Linked DNA regions of Homo sapiens: all the other regions are reported to be linked to region 4. The links are microRNA targets in miRTarBase. Many come from high-throughput screens and were not tested one by one. Region 4 holds a microRNA gene; each other region holds the end of a gene's coding sequence.

Evidence for each region. The annotated mature microRNA hsa-miR-6073 reads GGUAGUGAGUUAUCAGCUAC and lies in region 4 at 1,976-1,995, shown strand. An mRNA with a match to its seed (bases 2 to 7 or 8) in the 3' UTR can be bound and repressed. Matches are read on the target gene's strand: a 7mer-m8 pairs with bases 2 to 8, a 7mer-A1 pairs with bases 2 to 7 and ends in A, and an 8mer does both.
Region 1: the mRNA of FMO4 is a reported target of hsa-miR-6073. The part of its 3' UTR that is shown has no 7-base or 8-base seed match.
Region 2: miRTarBase lists KIF27 as a target of hsa-miR-6073. Seed matches in the 3' UTR shown: 7mer-m8 at 661-667.
Region 3: the mRNA of SNTN is a reported target of hsa-miR-6073. The part of its 3' UTR that is shown has no 7-base or 8-base seed match.

What each region holds. Positions count from the first base shown.
Region 1 is chr1:171,341,617-171,344,801 of GRCh38, reverse strand. FMO4 (flavin containing dimethylaniline monoxygenase 4) reads right to left here. Exons shown (of 10, transcript NM_002022.3): 10 at 2,718-3,185. The coding sequence ends at 2,963. Among named protein-coding and RNA genes, the nearest start is that of FMO4, 29 kb to the right of the region's middle.
Region 2 is chr9:83,834,412-83,837,584 of GRCh38, reverse strand. KIF27 (kinesin family member 27) reads left to right here. Exons shown (of 18, transcript NM_017576.4): 18 at 100-3,173. The coding sequence ends at 584. LOC101927552 (a long non-coding RNA gene) reads right to left here. Exons shown (of 6, transcript XR_001746793.2): 5 at 1,880-2,034; 6 at 2-555. Among named protein-coding and RNA genes, the nearest start is that of GKAP1, 18 kb to the right of the region's middle.
Region 3 is chr3:63,663,712-63,666,896 of GRCh38, forward strand. It overlaps SNTN (sentan, cilia apical structure protein), which reads left to right. Exons shown (of 4, transcript NM_001080537.2): 4 at 226-1,501. The coding sequence ends at 384. Among named protein-coding and RNA genes, the nearest start is that of SNTN, 13 kb to the left of the region's middle.
Region 4 is chr11:15,968,365-15,971,549 of GRCh38, reverse strand. MIR6073 (microRNA 6073) reads left to right here and starts at 1,929; the gene lies at 1,929-2,017. It overlaps SOX6 (SRY-box transcription factor 6), which reads left to right. Exons shown (of 16, transcript NM_001367873.1): 16 at 1-3,185.

The DNA.
Region 1 (3,185 bases), not on the chromosome of region 4:
TGTGTCATTAAACATGTCCGTTTATCAGTAGCAGCAGCAACAACAAAAACGATCGTTAACTGGAAAGTGCTGCCAGAGAATCCAGGGAGAGCAAAGGCCATGCCTCCAGATTACACAACAGGGAATGGGATTTGGCAATAGTTTCAAGTCCTTTCTTTAATTCAGAGAATAGAAAATGTCCCCGATTCTGCAGCTATTAGTAGTTAACTTACTTTGGACCAAACACCGTGCATTTTCTCATTAATGTTCACAGTAAGGTAGGCCCTATTATGACCACTGTTTTCCGGATGAGGACACTAAGGCTTAGAGAGGCTAAGTCACATGGCCAAGACTTCATAGCTAACAAGTTGAGTTCTCATTCTCAAGTTAGTGCTCTTAACCAGTGTACTTCGCTCCTGTGCAAGTACTGGACTGTATAGTTCTATTTCTTCTAATTGCCACTTGGATTGTCCTTTACTTATAACATTAGCTGTTGGCGGACTGTTCTTGTTTGTTTGCAAGGCTGAGGTAATTTATCATGTTGGCAGAAGACAAGAATGTAGGTAGAAGAGAGAAAACAAAGAGTGCCAGCTGGCAAGGCCACTGTCGATTCATCAAATACTTCTTTAGCAATGCTTCATATCAGGCAGTGTGTCCGATGAACATGATATGATTCCTTTTAGGAACTCACCATTTGTTAGGTGACAGACAAAAAGAAAATGATACTATAGTAAGAAAAGAGCAGCACCAGAGCATACACAAGGTGCAGCTGCTACACAGGGGTGACCATTTCTGCTTTGGGGATTTAGGGAAGGCTGCACAGAATGAGAGCACTGAGCTCTCTTGAAAGATAAATAGGATCTCATCAGTCAGGCACGGTATAGATTTGTGTGCCTGGCAGAGGCAAGAGCTGATGCCAAAGGGAGGAGTTATGAAAGTTCATAGTTTGGTAGTGCTGGATGGGAGGGTTTGAAATAACAGGCATCCTGCTGACCCAGGCAAAGGGACTCAGACCATGAAGGGCCTTCTATGTTATGCTAAGGAATATGGGACTATTATGTCTTCTTTTTTTTTTTTTTTTGAGAGAGTCTCTTTCTGTCACCCAGGCTGGAGTGCAGTGGTGTGATCTTGCCTCACTGCAACCTCTGTCTCCTGGGTTCAAGTGATTCTCCTGCCTCAGCCTCCTAAATAGCTGAGATTACAGTCACGCACCACCACGCCCAGCTGATTTTTGTATTTTTAGTAGAGATGAGGTTTCACCATGTTGGCCAGGCTGGTCTTGAACTCCTGACTTCAAGTGATCTGCCCGCCTCAACTTCCCAAAGTGTTGGGATTACAGGCATAAGCCACTGTGCCCAGCCAAGGACTATTATCTCTAATCAAGATAGAGAATGAAGGATTTTATATGGGAGGGTGACATGATCAAACTGGATCCCTTTTGTGTGCCTCACCATATATCCTCTCCATCATCTTTGCTCTGCTCTGTGCCCTAGGAGCCTGACCTCTGTGGATAAAATCTGTTGGCAACCTTGCCTTCTGACTTTCATTTGGTTTGGCCCTTGGGGAGCACTAGCAAGGGATCAGAGAGTGGGAAGAGAGTAAGATTAGATAATTTATTCCCCCAGATCTCTACTTTTGTAGTCATCGTGCACCTGCCTTTGTCACTCAGCTGAAGGTCATTGCTCTTGTTAGGTGGCCCTCTACGCAGTGCTTGCTTTTTCTCTTTAGTAATTGCTTTATTCTCTTGCCTCATTAGGTCTATGGATAGTAAAGGTTACAAGTCTGGGAGTGTTTCATTATCTCTATGATCTTCCTACACTCTGCCCATATCTTTTAAAATAATCTCTATATTAAAATTTCCAGGCAGGCATGGTGGCACATGTCTGTAATCCCAGCAACTTGGGAGGTGGAGGAGGGAGGTTTGTTTGAACCCAAGAGTTCAAGATCTGAGATCTAAAAAAAATAGTGAGGCTGGACATGATAACTCATGCCTGTAATCCCAGCACTTTGGAAGGCTGAGGCAGAATGATTGTTTGAGCTCAGGAGCTTGAAACCAGCCTGGGCAACATAGCGAGACCCTGGCCGTATTTTTTTTAAAAGAAAGAAAAAAAAAGAAAGAAAAAGTAACACACTGTCCCTATGAAAACCTTTAAAAACATTAGCCAGTCATGGTCCCAGCTACTCAGAAGGCTGAGGTGGGAGGATAGCTTGAGCCCAGGAGTTCGAGGCTGCAGTGATCTATGTTTGCATCACTGTGTTCCAGTTTGGGTGATGGAAAAAATTTTCTCAACTTAATTTGAATGCCATTTTGTTCCTACTGAGACCTTCCTGGGAATCAGAGGTTCCTATATATTTATAAACCATATATTTACTTTAGAGTAATAAACCATATTGTATTAGTCTGTTCTATTGCTGCTAATAAAGACATACCCAAGACTGGGTAATTTATAAAGGAAGGGAGGTTTAACAGACTCACAGTTCCACATGGCTGGGGAGGCCTCACAATCATGGTGGAAGGTGAAGAAGGAGCAAAGACACGTCTTACATGGTGGTAGACACGAGAGAGCTTGTGCAGGGGAACTGTCATTTATAAAACCATCAGATATAGTGAGACTTATTCACTACCATGAGAACAGTATGGGAGAAGACCTGCCCCCATGATTCAATTACCTACCTCCCACGGCATGTGGGAATTATGGGAGCTACAATTCAAGATGAGATTTGGGTGGGGACACAGCTAAACCATATCATATATATTTATTTTAGAATAATCACTGAGGTAGCAGGGTAGAAGATGCATTGGAAAGGGTGGCAAGAAAGAGGGTACTGAAAACAAAGAAGAAGATAATACAATAATTCAGATAGGAGATGACTGGGCCTGAATTTGGCTAATAGCAGTTATGATGGAGAGCAGAGGAGGGATGCACAAGATACTTGGAGATAGAATTAGCATGACTTTGTGTAACCCTTGTAACAATCAGGTTCATCCTCGCCAAAGACTTACTAGGTAAGGGGACATTCTGTCCTGTAGTTTATCTCTCACCAATTTCAAGAAAAGTGAAGATTTACAGATAAGTAGAAGAGAGGCAAGTAGGACAGGTGCCCCCCAGGCTTTTAAATAATGTGACATGGAGGCAGGCTTGGAGGAATCAGGGACAATTCGAGTTTTTAAAGGTTTCAATGTTCTGTCCCACTGGGTCAGGATG
Region 2 (3,173 bases), not on the chromosome of region 4:
ATTGGGTGATAATAATGTATTTATGTTAAGATGTTTTGATTAAAATACCTAATTTTGAGGAAATAGTATCTAATTTTTTGGTTTGGGGATTATTTTTAGATCAAGAGGCTGGAGATGGAGTCCTGAAGCCAGAAGGAGGAGGCATGCTTTCAGAAGAATTAAAATGGGCATCCAGACCTGAAAGTATGAAATTAAGTGGAAGAGAAAGAGAAATGGACAGTTCAGCAAGCAGCTTAAGAACACAGCCAAATCCTCAAAAGCTCTGGGAAGATATCCCAGAATTACCTCCAATTCATAGTTCTTTAGCACCCCCCAGTGGGCATATGTTAGGTAATGAGAATAAAACAGAAACAGATGATAATCAGTTTACAAAATCTCACAGTCGACTGTCATCCCAAATTCAGGTTGTGGGAAATGTGGGACGACTTCATGGTGTCACACCTGTAAAACTGTGTCGAAAAGAATTACGTCAAATTTCCGCCTTGGAACTATCATTGCGACGTTCCAGTCTTGGAGTTGGCATTGGATCAATGGCTGCTGATTCCATCGAAGTATCTAGGAAACCAAGGGACTTAAAAACTTAGACATTGAATAATAGAACTTTTAGTAGATATGTAAAAAGATTCCTTTTTCTAACCTGTTAAAAACTAAAGCTCAAGTTCACTACCTCTTTCCTCAGAATAAAGGAAGAAGGGGAGGAAGGAATCCCTAATTCTTTTATATGCTATAGATGTGTACATCTTCTATATATATTTGGGGAGTTTTAGTTTATATTCCCATAGTAATCAAACATGTTTTCCAATACTTGATAACATTTAAATATTTATAAATACGCTTAAATGTTTTTCCAGGCATATTTGAAGATTAAAACTAGTAATAGACTAAAATATCTATCAAGTATGTATTATTATATAATATAAATGTACATCATAAAAGTATGTTACAATATAACTATATTATTGTTATTCTCAAATACAAGTATATTTTTTTTTTAAAAGATCCAGCTAAATCTTGCTTTTGTCAGAGGGAGTCACCTGCTGCATATGTGGGCTAAGACAACCTCTCAGCTTTATGGATTGAGGCTCATTTACAGTCCTCAGAACTCACAGAAACGGTCAGTCCTGACTTTTTAAACATGCTCACTGTTCTGTTTCTGGAATTTTTTTGGATTTTTAAAAATTTATAATGCTATCTTTTATGTTTGCTAATATTATGCAATATAAGTTTTCATGTCTTTCCTGCTCTATACACTCAATATATCTCTCATTATGTTACTAAAACTGGGAGAAATGAATGCTGTTCCATGGAACACGGAAATTATAGAATAAAACTAAAGCATTCTAACATTTCAAGAGAAAGAACACTGGTTATGACATCTCTGGTCACATGGAGTATGTCTGTAAAGCTTGAAGTCTTGCCAAAGCATCTTTAATGATTTGATGGGCTTAAGTCTGATATTTTTTTCTATAACCTCCTTAGTCAGGCTTTGCACACCGGCCAAACTACACTGGGGCTGTAAATATGTCAATGAAATTTTTACTAAAATCTCCAAGTTTTTCTGGTCAAAATTTTACTATATAATGTACAATTTAGTTTGGAATTAAGAACTAAACAGTTTGCACACCAAATGTAGTTTGTACTTTTTAACCATATTTTTCAGTTATAGGAAACATCCATTGTAATGACCTGAGGAATTATTTTGTTACTTATGTTGTTCTTTGTTACTTTTCCAAAACACTTGTAAACCGAAGTTGAGTTTCTTAAACTAATTAATGTTTTGTTGGGGGCTGTAGCAAAACCATCCTGACATGGATGCTTACTCAGAGTCACCCACTTCCTTGCTGAATCCATTTTTTTCTGATGTAGTGCTGCTACAGACCTTTTCCTTTTGTCCTTTCCTCTGTTGCTGTGGATTTGATCATCTCACATAGGACCCAAACTGTCACCCTGTGCTCAAAGACTTAAGGCTTCCTTTCTCTCATTGCTAGCCCCTAGGGAGTAGAGTTTCTTGGTCTCCTTGCTAAAAACCAGTTCCTTTAGGAAACAAACCAAAACAAAACAAACTTATAAAAAGGAAAATATCTCTTAAGCATGGTACTAAAATTTATTTAAATTAAATAGATTTCTGTGGACTTACCTGGGAATGAAACAATTTATAAATATTGGTCCAATGAGATACTATTTTCTAAATTTCAAAAAACTAATTTACAAACTTAACTGGGAAATTTTATTTTTACCAGGAACTGTTTGAAGTCAGATTCTGGTTTCCAGCTAGTCTTCCATTTTTATAAATTTATGTACATTTATATATAAATATAAATCATACAAACCAAAGGTAAAACATACACATTATAAATATGTATAAATGCACTGACCTTTTGCCATTATTATATATATTTCATATATATATATGTATATACACTTGTACATATACAAGTATATAAGGAAATGTGTTTGTATTTCCATAAGTAAAACAAGTATGTGTAAATTAATTATTTCTAACTAAGGCATAGCACATAATCTTACAAGGAACTTATAATTAGGATCTTTGTTAATAAATACATATTTATTTAAATATATTATTGCTGTGCTTTGTTGAAGGCACTGACCTTTTACCATTATATATACTTGTATATAAACACTTGTATATATATAGTATTATATATATACTTGTATATAGATATAGGTTATACATTTTACATTATTTCACTTTATATTATTTCATATCATATTTTATATCATGATATATCATTATATAGCTATAATGTATATATAGATACACTTGTATATATACATAGATATAGATATATATAATGGCCAAAGGTCAGTGCCCTTAGCAAGCACAGCAATATTTATAAATAAATATTTATTAATGAAGATCCTAATAATAAGTTCCTTATAAGATTAAGTAATGTGCTATGCGTTATTTAGGAATAATTCATTTAAGAATGTATTCTGATACTGGAATCCTACTTGCTCAAGAAATTAACACATACTTGTTTTACCTGTGGAAATACACATTTCCTCAAAGCCAACTCACTAATAAAGCAAGAAAATTTATATCAAAACAACAATGATTAGGTTTGACTATGCAATTGTGAGTTGATTTCTAAATAACAAAGGTATGGTGTTTTTCTTCCTTTTGGTTAAACATATATCCTTTATATATATGA
Region 3 (3,185 bases), not on the chromosome of region 4:
TACCATGAGTGGAAGCAGCCTGAGGTCCTCACCACATGCAGATGCCTGATCTTGAACTTTCCAGCCATCAGAATTGTAAGCCAAATTTTTCTTTTTTCTTTATAAATCACTCAGTCTCAGGTATTCTATTACAGCAACACTAAACAGACTAAGACATTATTGTTTATGATCTGTAAACCTAAAGTCTATACAACGAATTCGGTTTTTATTTCTCCATTCTCACAGGGACAAGAAACCAAGCCAAAATACAGAGAGATCCTTTCTGAACTTGATGAGCACACAGAAAATAAGCTAGATTTTGAAGACTTCATGATCTTGCTCTTAAGCATCACTGTCATGTCAGATCTGCTACAAAATATACGGAATGTAAAAATTATGAAATGAACAGTTTTAAATATGCTGTATAAAATAATGGCAAAAGACAGTGTTATTAAAATGTTTCCATCTTATTTTTGATTAATTGAATATATCTATCATGCATCTGAAATTGCCTAGGATGGTTCTGATTGCTGGTATTCAGATCCAATGTAACTCCAAATATTTACCCATACACTTCAAGAATGTTTGAATGATAAGGTCTCTGTGTGCTTTACAATAGGATAGATTTGATACCACTGAATAATAAATGGCTTTTGCTGAGTCAGTAGCGACCTAGAGCACTCTACTTATAGTCATTGAGTCACTCATTTATTCACTAAACATTTGTTGAGCATCTACTTGATGGAACTGCTGAGGATACAGTAATGAATTGGCCAGGCAATTCCTTCCTTCAGACATGTTTGCAGAAGTCTAGCAGAAGAGATAGACATTGAACAATTTTTAAATAATTGCATACACAGTATAATTAGAATTGAAATAAGGGCTATAGGATGCTAAAAGAGATTATCACCTGATCGGAGTTCAAAGGTCAGAAAAGCTTTACTGACATTCTATAAAAAGCAAAAAAAAAAAAATTGGTCCATGGATGCCAGGGATATGGGTGGGAAATGGGGCTGTCCACAAATGGCACAAGGGGAGTTTTTTATTTTATTTTATTTTATTTTATTTTATTTTATTTTGAGACAGAGTTTTGCTCTTGTTGCCCAGGCTGGAGTGCAATGGCACGATCTCAGCTTACTGCAACCTCGATCTCCCAGGTTCAAGTGATTCTCCTGCCTCAGCCTCCTGAGTAGCTGGGATTACAGGCGTGTGCCACGATGCCAGGCTAATTTTTTTTGTATTTTTAGTGGAGACGGGGTTTCGCCATGTCGGCCAGGCTGGTCTCGAACTCCTGACCTCAGGTGATCCGCCCACAGCCTCCCAAAGTGCTGGGATTACAGGCTTGAGCCACCAAGTCTGGCCAAGGGGACTTTTAAGGGGGCTGGAAATGGTCTCCATTTTGATTGTGAGGTGGTGGCTACAAGATTGCATGCATTTGTCAAACTCATAGAACTGCACACTGAAAAGAGTGAATTGTACTGTATGTCAATTATACCTAAATAAATCTGACTTAACAAAAAAATAAAACCCAGTATTCTTGTAATCTCTGAACACAATTTAACCAACAATTCCTTGGGATTATGATGTAAAAGTAGTCATATCCCAGAGACCCACACCGACTCCCATGACCACCTCCTGTATTCCTGAATATAAATTACATACACACATATAGTCAACGCCTGAACCTTTAAGGTAGACTCTCACAAAGATTTTTATTCATGTAGGACCTCACTTGAGGACAGCAGGCCCCAGTAGGGTAGCTCAGCATATGGCAATGGGCACTCAAGGTCCCCAGAGCGGGCACTGGGCAACAGCCAGAGGCACAAGCCTTCATCAACCCTGGCTTTCAGAGATGCCATCTTACTCTATCTTTACATGGGAGTAATAATGTTCCCCCTTTCCAACTGCAGGAACTGAGGATTACAGTAGCTAAATGATGGTCCAGGATCATTGAGGCAATCAATTTCAGAGTCAGAATCCTGGCAGAAGCAAAGAGGTGCCAAAAGGGGAGGAGAAACAGGAGACATAGTTTTCCGGCTTTGATTCCCATTTTGTTCCAGTCACTTGCTAAGTTCCACAATCAGGCAGGCAGTCACCTAACATGTATTGCACTTCTACCGCAGGCTGTTGCCAAGAGAGAGGCAAAGAGGAACGAGTCACAGTCTTTACCTTCCAGGAGTTTATGGCTGGCAAAACATGTATGTAAATGTGGTCTATTGGAGCTATTCTATAATCCTGTCAAATGCATGGTAGGACTTTACTTCTCTGTTTCCTTACAGTTGAGTGTGCCCATCCTTTGACCAGTGACATCTGAGCTGAAGTGAAATATGCCACTTCCAGGTGGAGGCTTTGAGAGCCTGGGTCAATTCACTGCCCTGCTTCCCTGGGCTGTGATAACTGGCAACATGCCCCATGGAGGCTGCTCCTTTAGCCTGGGTCCTGAGGGAGGCCAGTTTAGAGCAGAAGCCCAGACAAACTGATACAGACATCTTGCTGAAGAAAGAAATAAATATTTTACCAGAAAAAAAGACGGTTATTCACTGTAAAATTATTATAACTTCCCAAGTTATCCCTCACCTCTCATTTTCTTCCCAGCCCAACATTGTATGCCTCATAACCTATGTTAAGAAAATCTGCCAGGCACAGTGGCTCACGCCTGTAATCCCAGCACTTTGGGAGGCCAAGGCGAGCAGATCACCTGAGGTCAGGAGTTTGAGACCAGTGTGACCAACATGGAGAAACCCCATCTCTACTAAAAATACAAAATTAGCCAGGTGTGGTGGCACATGCCTGTAATCCTAGCTACTCAGGAGGCTGAGGAAGGAGAATCACTTGAACCCAGGAGGCAGAGGTTGCAGTAAGCCAAGATCGCACCATTGCACTCCAGCCGGGGCAACAAGAGTGAAACTCCATCTCAAACAAACAAACAAACAAACAAAAAAATCCTTTCCAGAGAGAAACCTTCAGCCTTGCTCTGGTGAAGTGTTGCTTCATCCTGTCGTTTTCCAGATCCACCAGAACCCAACTCCCTGGCCCTCCCCACTTCCAAAGCTCAGACATCCTAAATCGAAGAGATTACAGATAATGTAAAGGAAAGGCCCAGAGTTTATCCTCTCACCATTTTAACAGGAGGCAGGAGTGTTTAACAAAAACATTCAAACTCACTTATCTGACAAAAGAAGAAAAAGGAATTAAAGAAAATTTGT
Region 4 (3,185 bases):
GTCTTTTGCCAGAATTTTCCCCTAATTCAGTTCACAAGTGGTAGGGTCTGCATCAGTGGCATTTCCCCCTGAATTCCATTCAGCAGCAAGGTTCAACAGTGGTGACTGCCAGGCAGGAGAGTCCTGCGGCCAAACCTGAAGCCCAAGGCTCGTGGGCCATGCAGGAATCTCAGTGAAGCTGTCATGGGCTGGCACCTTTACACTGAGTTGCCTTGTCCCAGCTGGCACATCTAGGGAGTTCATTGCAAAATCCCCAGGATGCAAAAAGCCACATGACAGCCTCAGAGCAAAGATGGTGGCAAATAGTCATGATACATCTAGAGAATGAAAGAAAACTGTAAGGGAGGAGAAGGAGGGGAATACATTCCCTATATGGGATGTTCCTACTGTTAACTCTGGGGAACAGATAGCTCCGGGGGCAGCAGATGAGTTCCTCTGGCTGACTCTATCTGTAGCCACATGGGGACCTGCCTACGTGTGAACAAAATGAACTGCACTTATCACACAAGGATTTCTTTGAAGACATGCTACTGGGGTGGGAAGCAGTGAGGTTTTATTCCCCATCTCCTAACTACAGGGAGCTCTGCCATGTCATTTTGGCCTTCCTGAAACTAGGACAGGTTGTCTATCGGGGGGCTTCCCCCAGAGAGGTTTAGTGGGAGAATGTCAGTGAATGGGATAGTTCACCTCATGGGACAACCCAGAATCTGATCACCAGGACATAGGAATGGCCCCATCAGATTTCTTGAGCCATTTTGTCACTTGGAAGAAAATAGTGTACCTTTGTATTTATTTAAGAGTGCTCAAGGCCTAATAGCAATAAACAGGTCTAGCCAAGAAATTACAAGCTATTCTGTTAGCTGGGAGTGCTCTCTATAAGCTGATTAAGGTACTGATAGGAACTCTTTGTTATTCATGTTGGTTGGGGATTAGAAATTTGTTTTTGTACATTTATTTCAAATGAGGAGGAGGTCATTTTTTCTCTCAAAAAATGAGTATTTATTATTGTCTTACTGATTTCTTTGATTATATACCTCTCCTCCTCAGTTCACTCTTGTTTTTTTTCTTTCTCTTTGGCTTTTGCTTTTGCTCTCTCTCACTTCTTTCTTATTTTGTTGCATTGGTAGAGTGTTGTATGGCTAGCATTGTATTGTATGTAATTAATTTTGCACAAAAGCAAACATTTAGCATAGTAGGTTAATTTTGTTTGTTTTTATGACCATGCCAAAATAATATTCTGGGCTGGTGGAGAACAAAGGACTGTTCTTTAGGACTGAAACTTGATTTTGCTCATAGTAAGTAAAAAAAAACAAAAAACACACACACTCACAGATGTTGTTTCGTAAGTGTTATAAGCACTGGATATAAATGGTATTTTTTATCACTTCTGACTAATGTGAAACTGTTGTACGAAAACTACATGAACAAAAGTCATCTGTTTCGACTCGTGTGGGCTTGCCTCACAGTTGCCGGATTTGAGTCATTTTTATGTCTTGTTATTTCATTTATTTATGCAAAATACATGTGTGTATGAACACTTTGTTTTAGCTCCAGCTCTGCCTCAGTACTGGGGTTCATTTACTTTTAGCCATGTTCTTAAAAATGAAAGGCTATTCAGGAATGATCTGATTGTAAACGTCTTTTTCATTGGATCAAACAGTAATGCTGTATTTGAATCTAAATTTTGTGTATAAGCAGTTTATTTATTAGCCAAGTTTGGCTCTAAATATCCATGGAAATTAAGAATGACAATCATAGGGATCAATTCATTTTATTTTCAGTGGGGCTTAAACAAAGTTTATATGACTTTACCATCTCATTTTAGATTTTTCTAATTGTGTAAATATAACATAGAAATAGAATTTATTTTTGGTTCATGAATACTTAGTGAGATATAAGTTATGTATTTCCTTTTTGTTCTCTATCCATAGATGTTGGTCCAAACTGAAAGTTGATGAGTCACTGTGCCTCTCGGGGTAGTGAGTTATCAGCTACAGTGAGAGAGCAGTGTTTGGCCTGCAGCTGGGACAGCAAAACGTTTCACCAGGGTTCTCATGCAGTTCAGAACCCACTGTCCACAGATCCAGACATTTCCCTTTTTTCTTACAGAAAGTTGATGATTGGACATACTAAATTTCCACTACAGTTAGGAGACAGTCAGTTTGCTTTGGGAGTCTACATAAATCTTCTAAGATAGTTCTGTGACCATTTAATAGCAAGAAGCATGAATGCCACTACAAAGGCAAAAATCCACCTCTGAGATCGGCCGTTAATAAACGTCCCGTCATGTCAGTTTAGATTCAAGAATGTTAAGCAACTTTGTTTTTGCGGTGCTCCCTATTTCATAGTATCTTCAAATCAAAAATAAAAATTATCTCCATTTTGTTAAAGAACTTACAGGGTCAGGGTTCTCCTTGTCACTTAGAATTGGGACACTGCCAGGCAATCCTCTCCCAAAAAAAAAAAAAAAAAAAAATAGCCATATGGAATGGAAGGAAAAGGAGAAAAGAAGGAAGAAAGGAAAAAAGTAGGAAGGGAGAGAGAAAAAAAAGGTCGCTTTGCGGATACGAGCCGCTAGGCTGACAACTTTTCTATTTCATTGGCAGATATGAAGCAGTGTCTTTTCCAGTAAGGTACGGAAGCTTTGTTGTTTTCATGTGTACCCAGCTCAGCCTTTTAGAAGCACCTCGGTTTGCTTCATTAGGTATTTGATACTCTCCAGCCTTGTCCTCAGGCCTGATTTGATTTGCCAGGGTCCTGACACCAAAGCCCAGGCCAAGTTCTAAATTCAGGTGTGGGCTCACAGTGCTATTGAGCTTGTCGAATTCTGGCCTCCCCTGAACATTAGCCCCACGGGAGCCTGAGGGTGTTTGAAAAGGGCGTGATCACTCTAGGGCTGAAATTAAAGGCTGCTTTCTTTTCCTTCTGAAGCCAGGCTGCTTCTTCGGAGTACACCCTCCTGAGCCAGGAGCACAAGCACTAGCAGAAAGCAGGGATTGTTTCAGGAAAGCCCATTTACCCTCAGTAGGAAGGCAGCCTGGTCACTTGAACAGCACAGCTGAGGCTGCTTCTCTCAATTTACTCATTTTGCAAAGAATTGACCTCTACCAACTCATTAGGGAGAGGAAAAAGAATCACTTAGTAATTTTAAATCATATGAGAAGTCCTGTACCAAGTGCCAACAA